Linked DNA regions of Homo sapiens. The protein of the gene in region 2 interacts with the protein of the main gene of each other region in a pairwise test. Each region holds a gene or a part of one and is shown on either strand. Other genes may lie near its edges.

The links.
Region 1: the proteins of TRIM50 (region 2) and NOD2 interact in a two-hybrid assay, tested with the Homo sapiens proteins (one study listed by IntAct).
Region 3: the proteins of TRIM50 (region 2) and ZNF438 interact in binary tests that used the Homo sapiens proteins (3 or more experiments, as listed by UniProt).

What each region holds. Positions count from the first base shown.
Region 1 is NC_000016.10:50,709,715-50,714,181, reverse strand, and holds part of NOD2 (nucleotide-binding oligomerization domain-containing protein 2), read right to left. Parts: intron 4,239-4,467; coding exon of another isoform or gene 4,166-4,238; intron 3,625-4,165; coding exon 1,809-3,624; coding exon of another isoform or gene 1,808-1,808; exon of another isoform or gene 1,545-1,807; intron 1,430-1,544; coding exon of another isoform or gene 1,429-1,429; exon of another isoform or gene 593-1,428; intron 1-592. UniProt on the Homo sapiens protein: Pattern recognition receptor (PRR) that detects bacterial peptidoglycan fragments and other danger signals and plays an important role in gastrointestinal immunity.
Region 2 is NC_000007.14:73,313,326-73,318,082, forward strand, and holds part of TRIM50 (E3 ubiquitin-protein ligase TRIM50), read right to left. Parts: intron 3,365-4,757; coding exon 3,240-3,364; intron 345-3,239; coding exon of another isoform or gene 304-344; exon of another isoform or gene 186-303; coding exon 1-185. UniProt on the Homo sapiens protein: E3 ubiquitin-protein ligase that ubiquitinates Beclin-1/BECN1 in a 'Lys-63'-dependent manner enhancing its binding to ULK1. In turn, promotes starvation-induced autophagy activation.
Region 3 is NC_000010.11:30,878,290-30,882,756, forward strand, and holds part of ZNF438 (zinc finger protein 438), read right to left. Parts: intron 1-4,467. UniProt on the Homo sapiens protein: Isoform 1 acts as a transcriptional repressor.

The sequences.
Region 1 (4,467 bases), on a different chromosome or scaffold from region 2:
TGATCCATTCAAGAATTCCAGAGATGGACTGGCCTATGAGGATCACACAGGCCAGTGATGCCTGGCCTCTTGGGGTAAAAACTGAGTCTACTACCCAGGAAAATGCACATTCTTATTTCTATCAGGGAAATTGCTCCAACAGACAGGTTTCCAAATTCCCACTCAAAGTATCATGATCCTCCCTCCTAGGGAAATAGAGTTTGGTGCTGGCTGTTTTCCATTTGCCTGGCCAGATCCACTCTCCCCCTTCTCTACCCGTCCCTGGCTCCTGGGAGGCTGATGCCTGGGGACTACTCCAGCAGACAGCCCACTCGGCCTCCCTGATGGGTCCAGCTGGTGGAAGGCGCTGGCCAGGAGCAAGAGTTGGGGTGAGGAGTTAGGGCCAAGCGGTATTCTTCCACTTTGCAGAAGCTCAGGCAGCCGTCTCCATACCTTCCCCCCAGCTAATTAGTCTCCCTCCCCTTCCCCCTTCAAGTCTACCCTCCCCCAGCTGTTACTAACCCCAGGCCCCTGCACCAACCCTCTCACTCTTCCTAACTCCTGCCCATGGCTTGTAAACAATCTGTTTTTCAAACTCTCCTCAAAACACCCATTTTAAGTGTGTCATCTGTTTCCTCCAAGACCATGATGGGTATAATCATATTTACATTCATTGCATATAATACATATATATATTCGCTATATATGTTATGTATTATGTTGTTATTATGCTTTAACCTAAAGACCATGGTCCCTATGTCAGGGTTAACAAAATTCACTACACAGTTTCTAGTGGGTATCCATGTGTTTGGTCCATGATGAAAAATAAATCTTGTTGCTTTGCCCCCAGAGAAGATGTATACCATCCTAATACTCTCAGGAAGTGGTTTGTCCCATGCTTAGGGTCAATTAAGGTCATCCAGGTGTAGCCCAAAGCCCCTGGAGGCTGGGAATCAATTTTAACTTCAATCTAGAACTTCTGCTTTCCTATAGGTTCTAAATAGAAGCAGGGCAATCCCCTTTCAAGCTGGAAGGATGTTGGGGAATCTGTCGCATGCTGATCCGCAGGCCTAGGCACACCCTCTGCCCTTGCCTGCCCCCAAGATGTGGAAAGAGGCCCCCGAGTTCAGGGGCACAGATTCTCCAAAGGGCAAAACCTCACATCTTTGGCTGGGGCTCTAAGCAATACGGGTAGTGCTGAAATCCTGTTTGGACACTGTGCTACCTCAGGAATCCAACAGTAGTTGTAACCCTGCAGCCACTTTCTATTTCTTGGGTCCTGAAATTCCCATCTGGTTGGGGTGTTAAAGTCTCTGATGGGGCACAAGTCACCTCTGATTTGGTGTTGTTCCTGATACGGACACATACTACACAAAACTTTCTGCAAGTGACCTCAAGGTTTTCAGGGAGCCTCTGAAGTGTATCCATAGACTGGTGGGAGGCAGAAAACCTGTAATCAGAATGATGCAATTTGTGAACCCCAGCTCTGCCATTTCCTGGACAAGTTACTTCACTTCTCTGAGCCTCAAGTCAAGGATAATGGAGATAATAACATTCCTGCCTACCCGCCAGGGTGGTTGTAGAGATTAGATGAGGTCATTCCGGAAAGCATAGCACCAGACCCAGCACATAGGCCAGTCAATAAAGTGTGGCTGTCATCATCACATATTGAAATTAAGGCCCAGAAGGGAAGGGATCTGGGCAGTGTTGCAAAGCAGGGTGGCAGAGGCGAAGCTGGGCCCAGACTTCTAGAGCCCAGCTCGGTGCTCCCACACTTAGCCTTGATGGTGCTCCCCCATACCTGAACAGCAATGCCCAGTAACACTCACTACAGAGCCTTGCAGACACCAAGGCAAGGCAGCAGCTGCTCCACGCCAATGTCACCCACAGAGTTGTAGTCCAGCTGCAGGGCCACGGGCCGCCGGAGGTGCTGCAGCACAAAGGCCAGGGCAGCACACTCAGTGGGGCCCACACTGCAAAATGTCAACTTGAGGTGCCCAACATTCAGGCCACGTGCAGCCTTCCGAGCCAGCCGCTCCTCCTGCATCTCGTACAGGCTCCGGATGAGCCAGATGAACCCGGGCATGGCATGCACGCTCTTGGCCTCACCCGGTGCAGCTGGCGGGATGGAGTGGAAGTGCTTGCGGAGGCTGCGGGCCAGACACCAGCGGGCACAGGCCTGGCGCCGGAGCAGGGCCTTCTCAGATGTCTGGCACTCAGCCAGCAGGCCCCAGTGCTCCCGGGACAACAGCCCTGCCAGGAAGGCTGCTGTGATCTGAAGGTTGTGCGGCTCGGCCTTCTGCAGCAAAGCTGCCACGCTGCTGTCCTTTCCCTCCGAGGCCTGGATGCACATCGTGGGCAGGAGCCTGGCCATTGGTGAGTTGCCTGGCCTGCCACAATTGAAGAGGTGTCTGAGCAAAGCTGGTGGCACATCAGCACTGAGTGCCAGGTAGAACGCGGCAAAGAAGCACTGGAAAGTGATGTGAAGGAATTCCAGGGGCGCCGTACTCCCTGGCACGACACCTTTGGCACGCACCAGGAAGCCAAGAGAAATGTCATCAGGGCTGACCTGTGCTGCCTGGAGCTGCTGGGCTGAGAACACGTAGCAGCACATGCCCAGGCCCCACAGAGCCAGTCTGCCCAGGTGCAGGAGGGTGGGGAGGCGGCCCCGAAGAAGACTGGGTCCCAGACCTTGGGAAGCTGAGTCTGGGGGGGTGGCATGCAGCAGAAAATGCTGCAGAATCAGCAGGTACATATCTGTAGTGGTCTTTGGGGACCCCCCCTCCTGCAGCAACAGTTCCTGGTGGCATTTGGACACCATCCATGAGAAGACAGGCAGGTGGCACAAACCGTGCAGGGCTGAGGTCTCTTGGAGCAGGCGGATGAGGCGGTCCGCCACCCCGGGCTCATGATGGCGCTTCCTCAGGTACAGCTCGATGCCCTGTTCAGAGAAGCCCTTGAGGTTGAACTCGGTGCGGATGTACTTCCTGAGGAACGCCGACACAGCGGCCGGACGGCTGGTCACCACCTTGCGGGCATTCTTCAGCAGGTTGCCCTGCAGAAGGTTGAAGAGCAGGGTCTGGACAGAGGTGGGGTCGGTCGGGGAGCAGTGGCGTTCACGATCCGTGAACCTGAACTTGAACTCGTCAAAGCCATCAAAGGTTAACAGGACACGGTCAGGGTGGTCAAGGAGTAACTGGAAGATGTCTTCTTGACCAACATCAGGCCAACAGCAGTGCTCAAAGAGTAGAGTCCGCACAGAGAGTGGTTTGGCCATGCACTGCAGCTGCCGGCAGCTGAATGGGAAGACAAAGAGAAATTCCTGGAAGTCTTGCCCTGCAGCCCACAGCAAGTGCAGCCGCTGCAGGAGCGTGCTCTTGCCACTGCCCGCCTCACCCACCACCAGCACAGTGTCCGCATCGTCATTGAGGTGGCCAGGGGTGCTGAAGAGCTCCTCCAGGCCCAGGGTGGCTGGGCTCTTCTGCGGGGGTCCAGCCATGCCCACATCTGCCCAGACCTCCAGGACATTCTCTGTGTATATGTCCTCCAGGCAGAGCGTCTCTGCTCCATCATAGGTACTGAGGAAGCGAGACTGAGCAGACACCGTGGTCCTCAGCTTGGCCATATACTTCTTGCATGTGGCAGCTGGAAGGCAGAAGAAGAGGCAGATGAAGGTGGCACCATGGTGAAGACGGGACCTAACCAGACAATGGGCTGCTGCGGGGGACGCTGACATAACTGAAGGGATAGGAGAGCCAGCGGGCGCCCATCCTGGCTCCTCCATTCACAAGCTGTGCACTTTGAGGACAGTCAAGGAAACTTCCTAACCCTCAGTTTCCACCTCTGTAAGGTGGGAGAAATGTTGGTCACTACCTCACAGAGTTTTACACGGATCAACTAAGATGACCTATGTCAAGTGCTTAGCACAGTGTAAGTGCTCAACACAAAGTAAGTGCTCAAAAGACATCAGTGACTGCCGTTATCATTACTGACACCAGGAGGAGTTCTAGATGACGGGAAGGGGCTCTGGGCTGGGATCGGAAGACCTGTATTCTGATATCTGTCCTGCCATAGTGGCCGGGTGGCTTTGGATAAATCCCTTCACCACTCAGCCTCAGGTGACTTTTTCTAAAGGGGAACAAAGGGCTTAAGGGCTCAGGAGCCCAGTCTCTGAAGCCAGACACACCTGAGTTTGAAAACCTGGGTCCACCATACACTTGGGCAAGCCATTTAGCCTTTCTGGGCCTCAGTTCTCTCATCTGTAAAAATGGGGACAATATACACCTGGAAGGATTTTTTCAGGAGGCAGCGAGATAAAATACAGTTTAAAAGAATATCTGACATGGCAAACTCTCAAAAAATGGTGCTTATTATCATTATTATTCATGGATATAGTAGGCACAACAATAGACCCTCAAAGATGTCCATGTCCGGATTCTCAGAACCTGTGAATATGTTACCTTACGTGGCAAAAGGAACTCTGAGATG
Region 2 (4,757 bases):
CACCTCCCAGTAGTGGCGGCCGCAGGAGAAGCCGCGGCTGGCCAGGACGCAGGTGCTGTAGTCGAAGCGCTCAGGCTGGCTGGCTCGCCGCTGGGCCAGAAGCCCGCACTGCACCACCGTGTTGCCCTTGGAGAGCTCCAGGAGTGGGTGGGCAGTGGCAGGGTCCAACTTGAGAGGCTCCGGGGCTGGGAGGGAGATCACAGAGGGTCTGTGAGGCCACGTGGAGGGCAGCAGACCCGGCCCACAGAAGCTGATGGAGGCCCTGAACTCCCCAAGGAGAGGGGCTGTGTCTTCCTCATCTCTCTAGCCCCAGGGTCTAGAAGGGGCCAGTACAGGGCTGCTCCCTGAATGAATGAATGAATGAATGAATGAATGAATGAATGAAGTTTTACATAAGGAAGATCAATCACAGACTGATTGCATCCACCCAAGGCAAAAACAGTGTTTATATAAAAGGGAGCAGCTTGGTGGGCTGTGGGGGGCTGAGGTGGCTGGAGAAAGAAATGGACACTGGGCTCGGGGTTCTGGCCTGCCTGCCTGACACAGAGGTGTTGTGGGAAGGACCCGGAAGACACCTGTCCTGTGAGCCTATAGCTCAGCCCTCAGGGATTTCTGGAGAACCCATAACAACTGCAGCTGTTGGATTTGCTAGCCTAGTCAGCCTATTCAAGGACGAACTAGCCCACCTGAGCTTTTTGCTAGTTACCAGCTGATCCGTTTACCCCAGAAATGTGAGATGTGCTCCCCCCTGCCCGCCTCCCACCCCTTCCCGCCACCCAAGTTGCCGCAAGGAAAGAAGGCCAAGGGGAAGAAGGTGGCTCCGGCCCCTGCTGGCGTGAAGAAGCAGGAGGCCAAGAAAGTGGTTTATCCCGTTTGAGAAAAGGCCTAAGACTTTTGGCACTGGACAGGACTTCCAGGCCAAAACGGACCTCGCCCACTTTGTGCAATGGTCCTGCTCGGTCAGGGTGCAGTGGCGGACAGCCATCCTCTATAAGTAGCAGAAACTGTCTCCTGCTATTAACCAGTTCACCCAGGCCCTGGACCGCCAAACAGCTATTCAGCTGCTTAAGCTGGCCCAGAAGTACAGACCAGGGGCAAAGCAAGAGAAGAAGCAGAGACTGTTGGCCCTGACTGAGAAGAAAGCTGCCAGCAAAGGGGATGTCCCCACTAAGAGGCCACCTGTCCTTGGAGCAGGAATTAACACCGTCACCACCTTGATGGAGAACAAGAACGCTCAGCTGGGCCAGGCACAGTGGCTCATGCCTGTCATCTCAGCACTTTGGGAGGCTGAGACAGGCAGATCACTTGAGGCCAGGAGTTTGCAAGCAGCCTGGCCAACATAATGAAAAACCCCGTCTCTACTAAAATACAAAAATTAGCCGGGCGTGGTGGCACACGCCTATAGTCCCAACTACTCAGGAGGCTGAGGCAGAAGAATCACTTGTACCCAGGAGCCAGAGGTTGCAGTGAGCTGAGATCACACCACTGCACTCCAGCCTGGGTGACAGAGACTCTGTCTCAAAAAAAAAAAAAAAAAAAGGAAGGCTCAGCTGGTGGTGACTCCACGCAACATGGGTCCCATCAAGCTGGCTGTCTTCCTGCCTGTGCCTGTGTGTAAAGTGGGGTCCCTGACTGCATCATCAAGGGGAAGGCAAGACTGGGATGTCTAGTCCCCAGGAAGACCTGCACCACTGTCGCCTTCACACAGGTTAACTTGGAAGACAAAGGAGCTTGGGCTAAGCTGGTGGAAGCTACCAGGACCAATTACAACAACAAATGTGATGAGATCCGCCATCACTGGGGAGGCAGTGTCCTGGGTCCCAAGTCTGTGGCTCACATTGCCAAGCTCAAAAAGGCAAAGACTAAAGAAACTACCACTAAACTGGGTAAAACGTACACTGTTGAGTTTTCTGTACATGAAAATAATACAAATTTTCCTTCAAAAAAAAAAAAAGAAATGTGAGATGTACAAACAGGATTCACAGTTCACAAACTGCAATTTTTTTCCTTCTTATCTTTCCTTTTTTTTTTTTTTCATTCTTTTCTTTTTTACTGATGAGGTCTCCTCTGTCACCCAGGCTGGAGTGCAGTGGTGCAATCATAGCTCACTGCAGCCTCCCAACTCCTGGGCTCAAGCAATCCTCCTGCCTCAGCCTCCTCAGTAGCTGGGCCCACAGGCACATAACACCACACCCCACTAATTATTTTTTGTAGAGATGGCGTCTCACTATGTTACCCAGGCTGGTTTTGAACTCCTGGCCTCAAGCAGTCCTCCCACCTTGGCCTCCCAAGGTGCTGGGATTGCAGGCGTGAGCCGCCGTGCCCAGCCCCTTCTTTTATATAAACCCTATTTTTGCTTTTGGTGGATGAAATCGCTCTGTTAGCAGTCTCCCTTATGTACAAGACAGCATGCTAGTAATAAAGGAATGAAATGTGTTTGAGTTGTTTTTGACAGAGAACAAGAATAGGTTGGTTCAAAAGTAATTGCGGTTTTTGCCATTACTTTGAAGACCACTTGTCCTTTGAGTAGGAAGGACATTTTTAAAAGGATATTACTTTTTTTTTTTTTTTTGAGACGGAGTTTTGCTCTTGTTGCCCAGGCTGGAGTGCAATGGCACGATATCAACTCACTGCAACCTCCACCTCCCTGGTTCAAGTGATTCTCCTGCTTCAGGCTCCTGAGTAGCTGGGATTACAGGCGCACACTACCACGCCCAGCTAATTCTTGTATTATTAGTAGAGACGGGGTTTCACCATGTTGGCCAAGCTGGACTTGAACTCCTGACCTCAGAAGATCCGCCCTCCTCAGCCTCCCAAAATGCTGGGATTACAGGCATGAGCCACTGTGCCCAGACAAAAAGTACATTACTTTTAAAAGTAATGGCAAAAACTGCAATTACTTTTGCACCAACCTAATACCATTTATGAAGCACTAAGCTGCAACACACGTATGTCTATATACAAGCTCTGCAGCCTGGCCGGGTGGGTGCAAATAGCCCCACTTTACAGATGAGGAACCTGGGCTCAGAAATGACACAACTTGCCCAGCCAGCAGCTAGGAAAGGAAAGAGTAAGCAGGAACCCAAGCTGTTCGGAAACTCAGTCCCATGCTCTCACTAGGACCCTCCACAAACCTCCATCTGAGTTCTCTGTAGCTTATTATCTCTCTGATACAATCGATGAACTGCCACCTGCCCTGGGCGGCAGCCCTCAGGAAGGAGGACGGGTCAGGGCCTCACCTGGCAAAACTTTCCGGAAGAGCCTTTTCCACACGGTCAGCTTGATGTCAGCCTGGTGGAGGCCTGGCTTGAAGGAGATGGGGCTGAATGCGCCTTCTAAGGGCCGGGCCTGCGGCATCTCTGCTCTGCAGGTGACAGTTCACAGTACAAGAGAGTGAGGTATCACGTGGCCCACCCCACCCCTCCATCCTATCTATGTTTGCCCAGCCAGATCCACAGTGCAGGACTGCAGTCACAATGCCCATCAATGCCCATCATCCCCTCCCCTGCACAGCCCCTTCAGGGAGGACCCATCTCCTTCCTAGAAGGGGAAACGCTCTATAGTGGTGCTTCTAGAGTGCAGGTTTGGGGACCAGCAGTGTTGGTTGGAAAATGGTCCAACCCATTCCCAGTAGAAAGTCAATGGTCCACCTGGGAAATGGTCAGAAATGCAGGTTCTTAGACCCCACACCAGACCTGCCAATCAGAAACCAATTATGGGGGCCAAGTAATGTGTCTTTTTTTTTTGAGTCAGAGTTTCACTCTGTCACCCAGGCTGGAGTGCAGTGGCATGATTTCGACTCAGTGCAGCCTCAACCCCCTGGGCTCAAGTGATCCTCCCACCTCAGCCTACCTAGCAGCTGGGACTATAAGCATGTGCCACCATGCCCAGCTAATTTTTTTCTATTTTTGGTAGAGACAGTTTCACCATGTTGCCCAGGCTGGTCTTGAGCTCCTGAGCTCAAGCAATCCACCCACCTTGGCCTCCCAAAGTGCTGGGATTACAGCTATGAGCCACCATGCCAAGACTTTTTTTTTTTTTTTTTTTTTTGAGATGGAGTCTTGCTCTGTCGCCCAGGCTGGAGTGCAGTGGGGTGATCTTAGCTCGGTGAAACCTCTACCTCCCAGGTTCAAGTGATTCTCATGCCTCAGCCTCCCCAGCAGCTGTGATTACAGGTGCCTGCCACCACACCCAGCTAATTTTTGTATTTTTCATAGAGACGGGGTTTCACCATGTTGGCTGGGCTGGTCTCGAACTCCTGACCTGAAGGCATCCTTCTGCCTCAGCCTTCCAAAATGCTGGGATTACAGGTGTAAGCCGCCATGCCCAGCCTCTGTCCCTTCATTTAAACCCATGTCTTCTGACCAAATTGTCTCTAAGACTAAAAGAAATGTGAGAAACACGGAGTCTCCCATAAACAGGGAGTGAGGAAGGCTTGGGAACTGCACGTGTTCGTTTGTTGGGTCTAGAACATGGATCCACTCTCTTCCCACAATCTGCAGAGCAAGTTTCAGGCAGGGCTGATACTGCCTGCTGCGCAAGGGTGAGGAGGGTAAGCAAGGGATGCCCGGTGCTCCTGGATGTTGCTTCTGGCCATTTCCCACCTCTCCCAGCTCCGACTCCTGGTGATATCCTGCCTTACACCCAGCCACCCTGAACTCATAACCAGAGTCCACATGCCACTCCCCCTTTTACAGGACCGTTTCCTCGGCTTGCCTGGCAAACTCAGGTCCTGGGTCCTTCTCAGCCATCAGGCC
Region 3 (4,467 bases), on a different chromosome or scaffold from region 2:
GGACTCAGTCAGTAGAGGAGAGAAGCAGCTTGACTGGAGAGAAGCAACTTGACTTCAGAGGGACAGCTGGACTTCAGAGGAAAGATAGCTTAACTTCAGAGGGACGCTCTGACTTCAGGGAAGATTACCTGACCATCCCATCCCCCTTTCCAGCTCCTCTCTCCACTGAGAGACATCCATCGCTAAATAAAATTATCTGCCTCCACCATCCTTCAAGTGTCAGCATGACCTCGTTCTTCTTGGACACCACACAAGGGCTTGGGACCCACTGGATGCAGGTACCCAAAAAAGGCTGTCACACTAGCCCTTTGCCCTTGCTGGTGGAGTGTAGACACCCCACATGACAAGACAAGGGGCCCACTGAGCTGATAACACTGCTGTCCATAAACGGTAAAGCTAAGCTAAGAGGGCATTGTAGCATGCCCTCTGGGATTCTGGGGATCACAGGCACTCCCACCTGGGCACCGCCACAGGGTGTGCATGGAGCTTGCTCCTGCCGGCACCCAAAGCAGCCAGCCTGAACCCACTCGCTTGCTCACGTGCTCCCTCCTGCAAGGGGTTGAGTGTGGCAGGCTGAGTAAACAGGGCACCCCCATTGCAAATCTGACAAAGGGGTCGAGAAAAATCCTGCATCATCAGGTCAAGAAAAACTGATCCCCGAGAGCCAGGAAACAATTGCAATGAGCCCTATTGAAACAACTGCGATGAGCTCTATGTGAGGACAGATCCTTGCAGAGATTTCCAGAATACTGGAAAAGAGAGCTACACACAGACACAGCACAACAGAGAGGGTCCTCGCTGGGTTATTTACCTTTGTAATGATCAGCACAGGCAAGTGAGGAAACACCCCAAGACCAGGGAAAGGTCCAAGGTACACTACAGTCACAGAAGAACGGGAATATTGCCTGTTCCCATTAGCTAGGGTAAAAAAACTCATAATCCACAAAGGAATGGGTAGAGTACACAGAAGGGTCTTGCCTTAGTAGGGGGGAATACTTAATTCTAAACTGTGCATTTCTCTGGTTTCACGTAAATCTTAAAGCAAGACATGAAAGAATCAAACTGTTTCAAACTATTTTAACTATGTACCAGAAAAAATCACAAAATATTTATAGAAATACAAAAATATCTACCACCCAATAAAGTAAAATTCATAATGACTGACATCTAATAAAAATTATCAAGCATGCAGAAACGCAGAAAAATATGATCCATAATTTAGAAAACAATCAAAACTGAGCAGGACTGACATATATTAGAATTAGCAGACAAGGACATTAAGTGTGTAACTAGATTTCATGTGCTCAAAATGTTAAGTACAGGTAGAAAAGACATGAAAAAATTCAAATAAAATTTCTAGAGATAAAAACTATAATGTATAAGATGAAAAATATACTGCATGAAATTAATGGCACATTAGACACGTCAGAAGAAAATATTAGCAAATCTGAAGGCACAGCTATTGAGACTACACAGAATGGAGAAGACAGTAAAATTAAAAAAACAAAAAACAAAAATCAGAATTGAGAGCATCAGTGAGCTGCAGGCCAACTTTAAGAAGATTAACATACCAGTATTTGAAGAGGGGAGAGATGGAAGGGCAAAAAAATTATTTTAAGAAAGAATGGCAGAACATTTTCCAAATTTGATGAAGCTGTGAACACACAGATCCAAACATCTCAAAACACTGATTCACGAGAAACATGAAAACATATTAAGGTATATCATTGCCAAACTGCTCAAAACTGGTGAAAAAAAAAAGTTTTTAAAGCACCCAGAGAAAAAGACACATTGCATATAAAGGAACAATGATAAGGATAACAACAGATTTCTTACTATTAATAAAATGATGCAAGTCTGGCTGGACGCGGAGGCTCACACCTGGAATCCCAGCACTTTGGGAGACCAAGGCGGGCAGATCACCTCAGGTTGGGAGTTTGAGACCAGCCTGACCAACATGGAGAAACCCTGTCTCTACTAAAAATACAAAAATTAGCTGGGCATGGTGGTGCATGCCTGTAATTCCAGGTACTCGGGAGGCTGAGGCAGGAGAATCGCTTGAACCCAGGAGGCGGAGGCTGCAGTGAGCCGAGATTGTGCTATTGCACTCCAGCCTGGGCAACAAGAGCAAAATTCTATCTAAAAAAAAAAAAAAAAAGAAAAAGAAAAAAACAAAAACAAAAATAATGCAAGTCTGAAGACAATAAACAATAATAACAACTGTAATCTAGAATTCTTAGACCTCTAGGCCCTGATGTCTTCTCTGGTGACTTCTACTGAATATTTAAGGAGGAAATTATACCAATTATATATAAATCCTTCCAGAAAATTGAAAAGGAGGAAATGTTTACTATCTAAAAAGGCCGGATTATCTAGATATCAAAACCAGACAAATCCAGACATAGAAAAGATTCCTATGTCCCAATATCCCTCATAAGCACAGATGCAAAAGTAATAAACAAACTACTAGTAAATCAAATCCAACAATATGAGAATACGTCATGACCAAGTAGAGATATCCAGGAATACACAACTGGTTTAACATTCAAAATAAATGCAATTTACCATCTTAATGTTATAAAAGAAAACTACATGATTATTTAAACAGACACAAAAATTGTATGTGATAAAATCCAACATCCATTACTGATTAAAAAAAAACAACCCTTTATAAATTAAGAATAGAAAGGAACTCCTCACTCTGGTGAAACACATCTTATGAGAAACCTAAAGCTAAAATCATGCTAAATAATGAAAGACTGAATGCTTTCCCTCCAAGTTCACAAACAAGAGAAGGATATCTATTCTCACCACTTCTATTCAACCCTGTATTGGAAGTTCTAGCCAGTGCAATAGAGCAAAAATAAATAAAATGTATTCAGATTGTGAAGCAAGACTTAAAATGGTCTTTATCTGCAGATGACATGATTGTCTAATTAGAAAATTCAATAGAATCTACAAAAAAAGCTCTTCTAATAACTGAGTTTAGCAAGGTTACACAATACAAAATCAATATGCAAAAATAAATTATATTTTTGTATCCTAGAAATAATCAGAAATTGAGACAATAAATCAGAAATTGAGACACCATTTATAACAGCATAAAAATGAAATAATTAAGGATAAGCCTGGCAAAGTATGTGAAAGACCTATACACTGAAAACTAAAAAACACTCATAGAGAGAAATTTTAAAAGATCTAAACAAATGAAGAGATATATACCACATTCAAAGGTTGGAAGACTCGATGTTGTTAAAATGGCAATTCTCTTCAAATAAATATATAAATTCAATGTGATCCTAATCAAAATCCCAGTAGACTTTTTGTAGAAATTAACCAATTTAATTTTTAAAATTCACATGAAAATAGAGCTCAGAATAATCAAAATTTTCTTAAAAAAGAAGAAAGAAATCAGACTAATGCTACTTTAGTTTCAAGAAAGAGATATATAGATCAATGCAACAAAATAGAGAGTCCATAAATAAATCTACACAGATATGTATTTTCATGAGAGTCCAAAGGGAAAGCTGTGGAACATGAATAGTCCCTTCAACAAAGGATGATGCTTTCTCTGTATGCAAAAAACAAAAAAGAACTTTGAGCCACACCTCACACCATATACAAAATTTGAAATGCATCATATACCCAAATGTAAAACACAAAACTTCTGAAATATAAAACTTCTAAAAGAAAATACTGTGCCCTTTAGTCAGGCAAAGGTATCTTGGACATGGCATCTGAAACATAATCCATAAAATAACAAACTAATATGCTAAACTTCATCAAAATTGCAAAATTCTGCTCTTCAAAAGATATCAATAAGACAATGAAAAGACGAGCCATAAATGGGAGAAACTATTTGAAAATAATCTGATAAAGAAATTGTATATAAAAACTCTCAAAACTAAATAAGAAAACAAATCTCCCAATTTACAATGGGCTAAAGAGGTGAACATACACTTCTCCAAAAAAGATAACTGGCCTGCAAATAAGAACATAAGAAGATGTTCAACATCACTGGTTATTAAGAAAAGATACACCTGCCTTAGGATCCAGCTAATCCCTTCCTACCAACCCAAGAGAAACAAAAGCAAATGTCTATACAAAAACTTGTACAAAGAATGTTCACAGCAGCTATATTTGTAGTAGTTCCAAGCCAGAAACAACCCAAATGTTCACCAACAGATGGAATATATAAACATACAATGGAACATTACTCAGCATTTTAAAGGAACTGTTGACCTACATCACAATAGAAATGAAGAAACATGATGCTATACGAAAGAAGATAGACATTAAAGAGCAATACTCTATGATTCTACTTGCATAAGATTTTAGAGACTATAAACTATAGTGGCAGAAAGCAGATCAATGGTTGCCTGGGGACAGGGGAGACAGAGAAGGTTGGGGGGACAGACTCTATAAGCAGACCTGAGAAACAACATATACCCATCCATCGAGGTGAAG